Regions from separate parts of the Homo sapiens genome. Here region 1 is linked to region 2. The links come from fine-mapping of genetic effects on gene expression. A gene starts in region 2. The other region holds a variant in brackets. All regions are shown on one strand. Distances are between the middles of the regions. Region 1 overlaps AKNAD1 (AKNA domain containing 1). Region 2 holds the start of AKNAD1 (AKNA domain containing 1).

Evidence for each region. PIP is the estimated chance that this variant, and not a neighbour inherited with it, causes the effect.
Region 1: its variant is fine-mapped to the expression of AKNAD1 in sigmoid colon (GTEx, PIP above 0.99).

Annotation. Positions count from the first base shown.
Region 1 is chr1:108,829,818-108,832,735 of GRCh38, reverse strand. It overlaps AKNAD1 (AKNA domain containing 1), which reads left to right. Exons shown (of 16, transcript NM_152763.5): 10 at 2,086-2,177. The region is part of intron 2 of LOC105378891 (a long non-coding RNA gene); the gene reads right to left. Among named protein-coding and RNA genes, the nearest start is that of AKNAD1, 26 kb to the left of the region's middle. The variant G/A (reference allele first, on the strand shown) is at 1,824.
Region 2 is chr1:108,855,524-108,858,441 of GRCh38, reverse strand. AKNAD1 (AKNA domain containing 1) reads left to right here and starts at 1,348. Exons shown (of 16, transcript NM_152763.5): 1 at 1,348-1,513. It overlaps SPATA42 (spermatogenesis associated 42), which reads right to left and starts at 1,225. Exons shown (of 3, transcript NR_034168.1): 1 at 941-1,225; 2 at 175-284; 3 at 1-57.

The DNA.
Region 1 (2,918 bases), 26 kb after region 2:
ATGTTTCTTGGCCACTCGCACCTCCTCCTTGACAATATTGATATTTTAAGTTGTTTACAAAACTGAAACCACCATCAATTAAAAAAAATGTAGATAGACAACTGAGAAAATATTAAGGGCAAATAATGTTCATTGTTGAGAACTTCATTATATCAAATGCTGTGACAAATTCCCCAAGGAGCAGAACTGTGGTTAAGAACACAAGCATACTGGCCGGGTGCAGTGGCTCGCGCCTGTAATCCCAGCACTTTGGTAGGCCAAGGCGGGTGGATCACTTGAGGTCAGGAGTTCGAGACCAGCCTGACCAACATGGTGAAACTCTGTTTCTACTAAGACATACCAAAATTAGCTGGGTGGGGTGGTGTGTTCCTGTAGTCCCAGCTACTTGGAAGGGAGGCTGAGGTGGGAGAATCACTTGAAATTGGGAGGGAGGTGGAGGTTGCAGTGAGCCAAGATTGCGCCACTGCACTCCAGCCTGGGCAACACAGAGAAACTCCATCTCAAAAAAAAAAAAAAAAAAAAAAGAACACAGCATACCAGTCAGATAGGTAAAAGTTAAAATCCCAGCTTTCCCACTTACTCATGATGCAACCTTGCCAAATTGCTTAAATCCGCCAGGCCTCAGATCACTCACCATTAAAATGGCGACAACGTGCCAGGATGGTTGGAAGTATTAAGGAGACTATAAGGGAAGCACCTGGCACATCATGAACAACTAGCAAATGGTAACAGGAAAACACTGAAACCCTCCAAGAAAATTAATGGACAAAGGACATGAGCTAAAAAGTCACAAGTAAGGCCGGGCGCAGTGGCTCACACAATTACTCACAATTAAAGTAATCCCAGTACTTTGGGAGGCCGAGGTGGGCGAATCATGAGGTCAGGAGCTCAAGACCAGCCCGGCCAACATGGTGAAACTGTCTCCACTAAAAATACAAAAAATTAGCTGGGGGTAGTGGTGGGCACCTGTAATCCCAGCTACTTGGGGGGCTGAGCCAGAAGAATTGCTTGAACCCGGGAGCTGAGATTAGGCCACTGCACTCCAGCCTGGGCAACAGAGTGAGACTCCGTCTCAAAAAAAAAAAAAAAAGTCACAGGTAGGAAATACAACCAATAAATCAGCATATAGGAACAGACTTATTTCCTTTAGTCACAGAGGAAATGCAAATTAACACAAAAGGTGACACACCCCTCCCTTCAATTAACAGAAACATTTTCAAGTGATAATTCCTGATGCAGAGGAAGGTGTGGTCAAACTGAGCCGTCCACACTGTTGGTGGCTGTGAAATCTGTACAACTTTTGTGGAAAGCAATTTGGCAATATGGGTCATCACACAAACATGTTCGCAACCTTTGGCCCAGACATTTCCTCAGGAAGTAATCCAAGATGTGGAAAAAGCTATGTGTACAATGATGCTTCTGCCATTGTTTATAATGATGGGAAAAGTACATTTATTTTTTACTTACATAAAGGGTAAGACCTTAGTCAAAAATACACAGTGGGTGGTAACAGCCCTCACAGGTCAGTGGAGTAATTGTTTTGTGTTAAAGAGGGACATATAACCAATCATTTAGGCCCCCAGACAGTCCCTAAACCCTGTTTTAATTCATAGTTGAATATATTTATTTAGAAAGGCTTTTAGAGCTCTACTAGCCAGCGGTCAGATTAATAGATCTAAAAATTATGTTCCTAAATCTGTTCATTATCTGGCGAAGCTTGGAGTAATTTGAAACTAAGGGAAAGATAAAAAGGGGAGAGTATTCTGTCATCTGTACACCAGATTTTAAAATCTGTTTAGAGGAGGAAGGAAGCAAGCCAGGGT[G/A]GAAACTTCCATTCTTCAGCCCAGGCCATTAGAGGCGCAGCCCCGACTGAGTGACACATCAGAACTAAGGATGGGCTCTTTCTTCTTTCCCTCCTGTCCCCCTGCGCCTCCCTTTCCCCAACTGGAGGAGAGGTTTGGCGAGTCTCTCTGCCTGAGGTGGCAAGTTCAGCCGGACCTCAGCTGCTTGCTGGGCTGTGCGTGTGCAGCCGCGGCGTGAGTCACATCCTCTATCACATCTCCATCTGTGTGCTTTGTGGCGCAGGAGGATCCCAACGGCACTCCAAGAAGGCAGGATTGTGCAGAGATGACGGCACCCAGTCCGAGCTGTGCCTTCTGTCGCAGGCTCCTTGAATGGTGAGGGCTTCTTGTGGCTACATTCCCAGGGTGGATTGGAGTCAGTCCTGGCATAGTAACTCCAGTGAGAGTGGGCGGCAACTAACTGAGGCCACTGGCTGAGTTATAGAGTCACAGATCTCAGGCCTGGGCACAGAGCCCAGCCTCCCTCGCACCCTACAGATCCTCTAGCAGTGGTCCTCAACTGGGGAGACCATCAAAATCACCATGGGAGATTTTACAATCATGCACATGCCTCCATCCCACCTACTGTCTCAGCATCGCCAGCGGTGGGGCTCTGGTAGGAATATTGCTTTTAAATCTCCCCAGGTGATTCCGATAAGCCCCCTTGGTTAAGAATCATGGTTACAGCCCACGGAGGGTGGTCCTGTAGGCTTTTGATCATTGCCCACATGGGGGATTCTTATCCTGTATAACAAACAGCTCCCACCATCCCTACTCTCTCCTTATGATGAGCAAAAGTCTTCTCTGTTGGGTTTCACCTGAGCCCCCCAGTCCCAGGAACAAGCCTCATCCCTCTTCTCAGGGCTGATTTCTTCCCATTCCTAAGGACGAAATCTTCCAGAGCTAACAAGCTGTAAATCATGTAAAATCCTCAGGAGAAATCCTTTGTTTTTGAAACACCCATTGGTGCAACTATTAATCTGTGTCGATTCAGTATCATTTATTTGAAGCTTCTTTCAGGTAGCGAGAGATGTTACCTCTAAGCTCACTGTGGACTCCGGCCAAAGCTCGGCTCAT
Region 2 (2,918 bases):
GACATATTATTCTGAGCCATCTCCTATTTTCTTTCATATGTAAATGTTATTCTTGAGCTAGGAATAGGAGAGAAAGAGAAAATTGAAACAGCCAGACCAAGTGTTTTTGAATGCTCTTAAAAGACAAAAAAAAAAAAAAAGACAAAAGTTTGTATCACATCAGAAGTTCCCTACGTGCTCTTCAAAGCTGATTGCTTGCAGTTAAAAGAACCCAGAAGAAGCAGGCACGCCATGATTTTGAAGCTCCGTTTTTGTTCTGTTATTCAACTGCAGTCAACTTCCAACTGTTGAAAAAAAGATGATTTAGAATTAAAGGGTTGCTTGTCTGTGTCGCAAGGCCCTTCAACTTGTTCACCTGTGATATCCAGAGACTCCAAGATGTTGGTGAGTTTCTATTGCAATTGCCATATTGCCATGGTTTTGCCCTTTGTGTTGACTGTAGCATTGTGCTGTTTGAAGACAGAGCAGCATACTGCTTTGTGTAGTAAAAATTGATGGATAATGTACTTAAAGCTTTTAGATGTACACTATTCACATTCTAAATGACAGATACAAAAAGGAATAATCAGAATTTAGATTGTTGAATCATTGCCTCCAACAGCCAACTCTTACCGTGACAAAGTCAGTAGGGCTGATCTTAGAAGTGTAGGACTTGTGAGTGTTACGTGGTTGTACTAACTGGTACCTTAGTGGAGGGGCAGATAAGGTAAGTAGAAACAATGCCTGCTTTCTCCTCCATGTCTGGGTCCTACACATAGTCCCCAGTTTGCCTGGTTTGTAGAGGTTTAAACACAGAACAGAGGGTGTTGGGAATGAGACAAAGAGATTGTCACAGGAACATGGACCCACGGTTTTCCTTTGGTGATGAAAACAATCCTGTCAATATGGAAAACTGTGTTATCACAAAATGGGCTTAGCGAATAGAAGAAATGTCACCTACCAGCCGGAAACAACAATTCGCTGACCATCTTTGGCCTCTTGCCACTAAGGAGTTTTGGTTTTCCCATCTGTAGAAATTCTTAATTGAGTCCATCAGATTCCCAGTCATCCTAGCCATGGTTACCTTCTTCTCTAAGTTGGCAGGTTAGTGAGCTTAGGCTAGCACTTCAGCATCAAATTTAGACTTCATAATAAAGTAAATCACACAGGGAATAGCTGTCAGCATGGTGACCACCTTGTTGTCCATTCCTACTCAGGGACTGGCCTGAAGTGTTTTCACAGCCTGGGTCACTGTGATGTCCTGGCCCTGTTTGCTCAAAGTGTTCATCTCAGAGTGACTTGTGAGGTATTGCTGAGCACATAATGGTCAAGATAGCTGCATAAGCAGGCGTGGCCCCAAATGTAGTCACCTGACTTCAGAAAATCAATTTGGATTCTACAGAAAGGTTCTGTTGGATTCTGAGTGGAACCTCTTTGGATATGCCTTTGGATTTCAAGATTGAGCCAAGTGTTGACATGGGAAGATGCTCCAGTTCCTCCAGTTATCTCAAAGAAGCTCATTACCTTGCTAAGGGTATGGATTGTCCTTTTCCAGAAAAAATCCTCTTGATATTTTGCATGCACACATGCAAAAAATAATAACAACAGAAGCTGTTTTCCTGTATGTAATGAGAGTGTTCCTCAGGTTTCTGGTTTATCTTAATGGTATCTCACTCCTTTTCTTTTCCTTTCTTTCTTTCTTTGTCTGTGTGTGTGTTTGTGTGTGTGTGTTTATGTGTGTGTGAGAGAGAGAGAGAGAGACAGGGTCTTGCTCTGTCACCCAGGCTGGAGTGCAGTGGCATGATCTCTGCTCACTGCAGCCTTGACCTCCTGGGCTCAACTGATCCTCCATCTCAGCCTCCCAAGTTGCTGGGACTACAGGCATATACCACCACTGCTGGCTAATTTTTAATTTTTTTTTTCTTTGTAGAGACAGGGTCTTGCTTTGTTGCCCAAGCTGTTCTCAAACTCCTGTCCTCAAGGAATCCTTCTGTTTTGGCATCCCAAAGTGCTGAGATTACAGGCATGAGCCACTGTGCCTGGACTTTTTTTCTTTTTCTTGAGAGCCAGAGCAAAATTCAAATTTTATCAGTTTTAATTAATTATATTTTAAAAGTGGGAATTTGGCCAACAAAGTATCTTTCCTTTCTATACAAGAAGGGTATGGCGTTTGGCAATGAGCTCCTGAAAATGTAAAGAAAGCATGAGGATAACTTTGGGACTGATACTTGGGTCATTAAAAGTCTTGCAAAACTAGAATTTGTTTTCTTCTTCTTCCATTCTCTCTGTAGGCATTTAAACATACTCTCAGGCCAGGCACAGTGGCTCATGTCTGTAATCCCAGCACTTTGGGAGGCTGAGGCAGGTGGATTACTTGTGCTCAGGAGTTCGAGACCGTCCTGAATAACATGGTGAAACTCCATCTCTAAAAAAAAAATTAAAAATTAGTCAGGTGTGGTGGTGTGCGCCTGTAGTCCCAGCTACTCAGGAGGCTAAGGGAGGAAGATCAGTTGAGCCATGGTGTTGTCACTACACTCCAGCCTGGGTGATAGAGTGAGACCTTGTCTAAAAAAAAAAAAAAAAAGATACTCTGTTTTTTTTTGTTCTAAAAAATTAGACAATATTTTGTTTAAACTTGCTTAGTGATTTATTTATTTATTTATTATTTTTTATTTTTTTGAGACAGAGTCTTGCTGTTGCTCAGGCTGGAGTACAGCGGCATGATCTCGGCTCACTGCAACCTCTGCCTCCCGGGTTCAAGTGATTCTCCTGCCTCAGCCTCCCAAGTAGCTGGGACTATAGGGATGCACCACCATGCCCAACTAATTTTTGTATTTTTAGTAGAAATGGGTTTTGCCACATTGGCCAGGCTGGTCTTGAACTACTGAGCTCAAGTGATCCACCTGCCTCAGCCTCCCAAAGTGCTGGGATTACAGGCA